Linked DNA regions of Homo sapiens. Changing the gene in region 1 together with any one later gene gives a genetic interaction. Each region holds a gene or a part of one and is shown in the gene's direction. Other genes may lie near its edges.

Evidence for each region. Genes that interact genetically often act in the same process or in processes that back each other up.
Region 2: changes in REV3L (region 1) and GPR27 impair growth when combined (synthetic growth defect), as found in Homo sapiens cells (one large-scale study listed by BioGRID).

What each region holds. Positions count from the first base shown.
Region 1 is NC_000006.12:111,480,419-111,484,517, reverse strand, and holds the start of REV3L (DNA polymerase zeta catalytic subunit), read left to right. Parts: upstream 1-1,299; 5' UTR 1,300-1,629; coding exon 1,630-1,768; intron 1,769-1,906; exon of another isoform or gene 1,907-4,099. UniProt on the Homo sapiens protein: Catalytic subunit of the DNA polymerase zeta complex, an error-prone polymerase specialized in translesion DNA synthesis (TLS). Lacks an intrinsic 3'-5' exonuclease activity and thus has no proofreading function.
Region 2 is NC_000003.12:71,752,691-71,756,654, forward strand, and holds GPR27 (probable G-protein coupled receptor 27), read left to right. Parts: upstream 1-1,164; 5' UTR 1,165-1,359; coding exon 1,360-2,487; 3' UTR 2,488-3,806; downstream 3,807-3,964. UniProt on the Homo sapiens protein: Orphan receptor. Possible candidate for amine-like G-protein coupled receptor.

The sequences.
Region 1 (4,099 bases):
GGTCACGCCCAATATCAGTGGCCAAGTCAGAGAGGAACCCCTTGTTTCCAATTTAATAGCCAAGCCAGCTGCATGTTACTACTCTTTAAAACAAAAATTCCCTAACTGCATCGCTTCACCCCCTCTCGATTTTTGAATAAAGTTGTTTATTCAAAACGGCCCTTCCCCACGGTGGTGCTTTTATGCCTTCGGGTAGTAAAACCTTCCATAACGTGTTAGTGAAAAACACGAGGAGGCCACGTCTAACGCGGTGACTTTCACAGGCCTTTTTCTTTGGCCAAAATTTTCTCGGAAAGACTGTTAATCCTACATTCCGCTGGGGGAGGAGCGACGAGGGAGGAGGGAGGTCACCGGCAGCTGACAAGTCCTTACATGTACTTGCGCGTGCCCGGGACGCAGCCTGCGGGGCCGAGGAAACCAACGAAGGATGTATTAGGACGAGAGGGAAGGAAGGGGGCGGGAGAAAAACACGGTAGTGGGAAATCCCTGTGCACTGGATCTGCCAACCCCTCGCAAAGCTGAGAAGAGCCGTGCGTGAATAAATCTCATTAAATGGCCCGGCGCAGACACTGCAGCAGCAAAGAGGAGGGGGCACCGCGGCTCGCGCGGCACGTTCGGGAAGGGGGAACGCCAGGGCGGCCCTTTTATAGGCCGAAGCCCGCGCCCGCGCGCCCCCACCCTTCGCACCGCCCCCGGGCCACGCGCGGAGCCGCGGCGTTACCTGAGAAGGGCCGGCTGCGTCCGCACCCGGCCCCGCCCGTTCCGCCGCCCGCCCGCCCTTCCCTCCCGCGAGGCCGCAGCGGCACGAGATCTGCGCCTCGCCTCCCTCCTCACGCGGGCGGATTTTCTTACCTTGTGAAAAACCGTCTCAGCGGCTGCCCCCGCCTCCTCTGCTGGATGTGAAATGGCGGTCGGCGAGGCAAGTGTGAGCATCGCAGCTCCTGCCAATCCTGCATAGCCGCCAAAACGGCCCCGAACACTGGCGCCCCCCTCCCGCAAGCCCCTCGGAGCCCATCCATGAGATCGGTGCTCCGCCGCCCCTTCCGCTGCCCCTCACCCAGGTGACCGTGCCCGCCAGCCGAGTCATCGATCCCGCGCGGGCGCTGCCGGCCGCCGGCCGCCTCCCTCGCCGCGTGCCCGGGGAGGGGGAGAAAGCCCCTTCTCGGCCCCCGCCCTCCGTGTCCCGCCCGGGCGCCCGCCCTCTCGCTCCTTTTCCCGCCGAGCCCCCTCCCCCGCACTACTCGCAGCCTCCCTTCGCCACACACACCCCCCTCTCCCCTCCCCCCAGTGGTTGCGTCCGTGACATCATCATCATGGCAACAAGAGCTGCAGCCTGGGACCGAGGAGCCCGTGTGATTCCCGGCGGTGGCGGCAGTGGCGGCAGCACCAGCACCGACGAAAGCTCGAGGGCTTCTCTCCTGCGGCCCCTTGCCGGGTGCTCCTGAGGAGGCGGCGGCAGCAGCGCCTACACCGCCCCGCCCGCCGCTCCTCGAGGTGCCTCTGTGTGAGGGGAGGGGGCCGTGCCGAGAAGGGGAGGGGGCGCCGCCGCCGCTGCGGAGGGAGCCGCCGCCGCTGCTGCTGCCGCTGCCGGGTCGCCAGTGAAGGGAGGCAGTGGCGGCGGCGGCGAACATGTTTTCAGTAAGGATAGTGACTGCAGACTACTACATGGCCAGCCCGCTGCAGGGGCTGGATACCTGCCAATCCCCCCTCACCCAGGCCCCTGTCAAGAAGGTGCCGGTGGTGCGAGTCTTCGGAGCGACCCCGGCAGGTAAGCGGGCGCCGGGCGCGGGGCGGGAGCGGGAGTCGGCGGGGCGCCGGGGCCGCCCTCCCCGCCGCGCACACGCGCACACGCCACCGGCGCCGGCCGTCTCCGTGGATCGCTGCCGCGTCTTCCCTCCCCTCCGCCCTCCTCGCCTTTTCTCTCGTGCGTGACAAGAGCCGCAAAAATGTGGGTCCGCGCGAGCGCTGCGCGGCGCCCCCACCCCCGGGCAGGGAGGTGGCGAGCGCCGCGTGTTTAGACTGCGTGTGGCGGCCGGGAGCGGGAGCCGCACTCCAGGGCGCGGGCCGGGAGAGCGAAAGCCGCGGGCGCCCCGGACGGCGGGCCAGGTGGCCGCGCCATGTCCATCGGTGGACGGGTTCGTAGGGCCTGCTCTGAGGTCGGTCGCTAGTGGGACATCCCTTGTGTCCCCCAAGTGCCGCTTTCTGGAAACGGGGAAGTGTCAGCCTTGTTGTCAGTCGCTCCCCATGGTCTCTTCTCACCCTCGCTCTCCTCTGCCAGTTCCGGAGATGCAGTGGGCCGGAGAGAGTGGCGCTTGGGGCCAGATAATCTTTCTCACTGGGGTGACCGTGTGGCTCTGCTGTGAGTGCAGGTCGTGACTCCTTAGAGTTTAGTGCCTGAGCGTCGGGGGACAGGGCAGCATCCTTAGGTGCAGTGCTTTCAGGAAATGTGCATCCATGGAAGTAGGAAATGCGTGTTTATGTTGCCCAACCTAAAACATCACACTTAATGGGGTGAATTTATTAGGAACCACAGCCAGACTCAGCAGCACAGACATTTTGAAATGCTCCTAGGCTGGGCTGTAGGATTGCGTTTTAAGTACAGGTATATATTTTTTAAACACAACTATGTTGAAGAAGGGATGGGAAGGGGAGACAGCCGTGACAGAAGGTACGTTCTCAAAAACTCCTGGGGCTTATGATAATATAAAAAAGATAGAGGCCCAGTTTACTAGGTGTTTTAAAATGGTTTTGCTTTTTTGCATGCTTTGAACTGCTTCCATGAAATAATGGAGTTCTAGGAAATAATGCATCTTAGGAAAGGTTGTTCTTCCCTCTAGCTATGAATTGCCCTATGGGATTTTAGATAGCATTTCCCACTTGATGCTCCTTGCCCTCATCACCATTCATCTTATTACTACAGTCAGTTTCTGTGGACTACCAAGATAATAGCGCTTTCCCAAACACAAGCACTCATTTTAAAGCAGTTATCTTTTAATGTGAATTCTCTTTGTTAAAATGTCAATGTTGTGAGATTTGGTAGCATATTCCTATTTAAACTAGTGAATATGATTTTGATATGAACCTTGAAAGATGGGGAATTTGAGTGCTTTTAACGTGTTGAAAGTGTAACACTTGAAACTTTGGAGGCTGGGAAATCGAGGCGATGAAGTGTTCTATAAGATAGGTTTTCTGCCCTTTTAAATATAGTGGTGCTGTCTTTGTTTCCAATTGGAATTTCAGTGTAATGCACTGTTCTCACTTCAGATGCAGAGGAAGGATAAAATAGTGAAGTTGATATGGCCCTGTTCAGCCAAATTTCCGAATCATAAAGTGACATGCTAATAGGATATACTGTGGCATTTCTGTGTATTACAGCTTGTATGGTTTGAGTTACTTTTCCACACATAATTTTTTCTCCTCCACACAAGTCATTAAATATGTTTTCCTGAGAGATAGTCAAGCTTTGTTGTATAGGAAAGTTTCGTTTGTGGAAATAAATGAGTTTCACTGTAAGCTAATGTAATTCTATTACGTGAGGAAATGTTCCTTAAAAAATAAAGAATATTATATACTGTTGTTTTCCTGAATATTTTTTAAAAGACACATTAACTATTTCCTATTTAATCCTTCATGGACATCCCACAATAGATTACCAGCACCTTAAAAAAAAAAAAAAAAACAAAAACGAAAAAACCAAAGACTAAAAACCCCCATTGGGGTTTTTTTTTTGGTACATACTTTGAAATTTATATTTTAAATGAATTAAAAAGTAACACTTTTTATATGTACATTGAAAGACATAAAACTTGATACAGAGAAAGTCAAATTTTAAATTGTTAAGGATTATCAAATTGAATTTGCCATGTAGTTCACAGTTTCCAACAAAATGTTTGTTTCAACAAGAAAAAATTTGAAGTCATTGGCATACATTTAGAGTTTACACTTTTCATAAACCAAGCCAGCATTTTTATTAGCACGTCAGAAACTCCCAGTGAGATTAATATTAATTAAACATAATCAAAAACTGCAGAATTACCTGCTTTTGAATTATCTCCCCAAGGAAAACTAGTCCAATAAAATAAAACTTGAAAATTATTAA
Region 2 (3,964 bases), on another chromosome or scaffold:
AGCATGATTTTTAAAAAGAAATGAAAGTATATAATGACAAATTATAAGTGCTAAGAAGGAAATGACTAGAGGGCAGGGATACAGAGTAAAACAGACGGGTTAGAAGGAGGCCCTACGGAGAGGGAGCCTGTTGTGGGGCTGGTCCAGGCAGAGGTACCAGCACATGCAAGGTCCTGCGAGACAAATGCGGTGTGTCTGAGAATCATAACAGGGGCTGCCCTTTCAGGCTTACCCAGAAAATAGATATCCTGGGAGGAAGGTGGCATAGGGTTCACCTTCCAAGTCACTTAAAGATGAAATGCTGCATTTCTTTTCCCTGATATAGGTCCTTCACCGGGATCACGGATGAGTTAGCGAGCAGGGGATGCTGCGGAGTCGCTGTGAGTCCAGCACTGGAAATCAGACCAAGCGAAATTTGAATCCCAGCTCCGCTACTTCCCGGCTCTCAACTCCCTTGACCTCCAAGCCTCTGCTTCCTGAGGTATAAAGTGGGATTAAGGATGGCAACAACTTCGTGATTACTGTTGAGGGAGATAATGCTTGCCAAGCTCCCCAGCACACTGCCACCCACATCAGTGCGCACCTGAGTATCAGCGGTTTTAGGATTACGATGACTATTACTATCGTAAATTACTCCCAGCTTTCGGGCAGAAGGCTCATTCCAGATATTCCTGTCCCCTCTGAGGCCTCCCGACCCTGCCAGCCCAGGCAACCTCCCCCGCGCACGGCCACCGTGACCCCAGCGCGGGCGCCGCCGCCGGACCCCCGTTACCTGGGGCCAAACGCGACTTGTCGCCACCTTGCGTCCTGGGCCCTGCCTCCCTCCCGGCCGCCTCCCGACCCCGCGGCTGCTGCGGAGGCGCCCCCAGCCCAGCCGGGCCCAGGCGGTGCGGGATGCCTCGGCGGGGCTGGCGGCGGCGGCCGCGCTGCGCGCTCCGGCGGAGGGGAGGGGGCTCCGCGGCGGCGGCGGCGGCGGCGGCAGCGGCGGCAGCGGCGGCGGCGGGCCCGGCGGGGGGCAGAGCCAAGAGGCGCGGCGGCAGCAGCGGAGGAGTAGGAGGAGACGGAGGAGGATGCGGGGGGCTGCGGACGGTGGCGAGGCCCTGTCCGCAGTGAAGCCCGCGGCGCCTAGGGCGCAGGGAGTGGCCGCCTCCTCCTGCGCGCACCATTCCTGAGATGGCGGCGGCGGCACAGCGGCGGCTCGGGGAGCCCAGGAGGGGCCGGCCGGGAGCGGGCTGAGCCCCGCAGGACGGGGAGCTCGCCCAGGGCCGGCGGAGCGGCGGAGCTCGGGCCGGGCGGCCTGCGGGAGCGGCGAGGCAGGGGACGGCCCCGGGGCGGAGCGCACGGCCTGGTGAGGCCGCGATGGCGAACGCGAGCGAGCCGGGTGGCAGCGGCGGCGGCGAGGCGGCCGCCCTGGGCCTCAAGCTGGCCACGCTCAGCCTGCTGCTGTGCGTGAGCCTAGCGGGCAACGTGCTGTTCGCGCTGCTGATCGTGCGGGAGCGCAGCCTGCACCGCGCCCCGTACTACCTGCTGCTCGACCTGTGCCTGGCCGACGGGCTGCGCGCGCTCGCCTGCCTCCCGGCCGTCATGCTGGCGGCGCGGCGTGCGGCGGCCGCGGCGGGGGCGCCGCCGGGCGCGCTGGGCTGCAAGCTGCTCGCCTTCCTGGCCGCGCTCTTCTGCTTCCACGCCGCCTTCCTGCTGCTGGGCGTGGGCGTCACCCGCTACCTGGCCATCGCGCACCACCGCTTCTATGCAGAGCGCCTGGCCGGCTGGCCGTGCGCCGCCATGCTGGTGTGCGCCGCCTGGGCGCTGGCGCTGGCCGCGGCCTTCCCGCCAGTGCTGGACGGCGGTGGCGACGACGAGGACGCGCCGTGCGCCCTGGAGCAGCGGCCCGACGGCGCCCCCGGCGCGCTGGGCTTCCTGCTGCTGCTGGCCGTGGTGGTGGGCGCCACGCACCTCGTCTACCTCCGCCTGCTCTTCTTCATCCACGACCGCCGCAAGATGCGGCCCGCGCGCCTGGTGCCCGCCGTCAGCCACGACTGGACCTTCCACGGCCCGGGCGCCACCGGCCAGGCGGCCGCCAACTGGACGGCGGGCTTCGGCCGCGGGCCCACGCCGCCCGCGCTTGTGGGCATCCGGCCCGCAGGGCCGGGCCGCGGCGCGCGCCGCCTCCTCGTGCTGGAAGAATTCAAGACGGAGAAGAGGCTGTGCAAGATGTTCTACGCCGTCACGCTGCTCTTCCTGCTCCTCTGGGGGCCCTACGTCGTGGCCAGCTACCTGCGGGTCCTGGTGCGGCCCGGCGCCGTCCCCCAGGCCTACCTGACGGCCTCCGTGTGGCTGACCTTCGCGCAGGCCGGCATCAACCCCGTCGTGTGCTTCCTCTTCAACAGGGAGCTGAGGGACTGCTTCAGGGCCCAGTTCCCCTGCTGCCAGAGCCCCCGGACCACCCAGGCGACCCATCCCTGCGACCTGAAAGGCATTGGTTTATGAGGGAGGCCCCGCCACATAGACCCCCAACCCAGCCTTTCCCTTTGGCTCGGACGGTGACGTTGTATCTTTTCCTTCTGGCCCCTGTTTAATTTTCTAAGCTGCCTTCAAAATGACTCGAAGTGGACAGACACTTGGATTGTACTGACTCCTTTGGGGGTGGGGTGGGTGAGGAGTAGGATGCTCAGCCCACTCCAGCTCCGCACATTCGTCCTCCTAACTCGACTTTCTTCCTGACAATAGGCCCTGCAGTCTTTTTGTAGCGGTACTGACGTCTTTTATTCCATGTGTGGTTCCTTTTTTTCTTTTTCTATAAAGGCTGTACTAATTTTCTTCATGCAACGTTTCCTAAAGACCATGGCCAGTTTTCTACAGAAGCTATTTTTGACAACCTCAAGTGGCATTACATTTTGCAGTGAAGTAGAGGAACCTAGGGGGACTTCTTCACAAGTTAGATTTCTTGAGGATCTTCTGTTGGAAGCAGGAGAAAGTGGGGGGTGGGGGGAAGTTGTCCGAAATGCCCTCTGAATTGCCGGCTGCAGGGTCCTTGTGCTGCGCTGGTTCTTTGAAAGTCTCAGTGTTGATATTGAACTTAAAGAGCAGAGATGGAGATCAGTAGCAAGGCAGTCATTTTTTTAAAGCAGTAAGTAACAAGTAAGATTTGGTTCCCGGTTTACTTTCTGCTGCTAAAAACCACGTCAGTGACAACTGCTCTCTGTATTATAGCAATCTTGAATGGAAACATTTCTGTCAAGTTGTAAGTTTTAAAAGAGTAAAGTGTTTTGGTTAGTAATGATGTGGAGAAAAATACAGTATTGCATGTGTTCGTGTGTATAGATTGTGGTTCGAGGATTGGGAGGGCTCTGAGAAGCAGAGTACTACATCAAAATTGTTTTAAGTATTTTTTGCCAATAAAAAATTAATTTTATGGAAATGGCTTGTGCTTTGAGAAGCCCAGTTTTATTCTGTCTTATGAAACTAATTTCCACTTTGAAAATTGTTCTTCTGTTGTTTATGGTATAAATGAATGGAATATAATGATATCCTCCTTCTAGGAAACAAAGCATTTCCTTAAAATGTTTGCTAGGTTAAGCTGTGCTGTTCTACTGATGGTTGTTTTAAATTAATAATGAGAACTATAATTTAAATAATATTTCTTTGTTAGACATTATAATGTTAAACTGAAAGACTAAATTCTGCAAGTACTATATAATATTTTTGGCTTATAATGCTACATTTTTATTAATGTACCTTCCGTTTTGAGGATTTATATCTGTATTTCTCTTTGCATTATACAAATATACCAGTATTTTCATTCTGGAGTGGTTGTTTTGTTGTGGTGGTGGTGGTGTTTGAGGCTGTAATAATACATGCGTCGAAGTATGTTACATGCCTCTAAGTATGTTATGTAAGGATAACATGCTCTATGATCCTTTTAGCACGTGTTCTTCAGTTACAGGTTTCATAGTTTGACCATCAG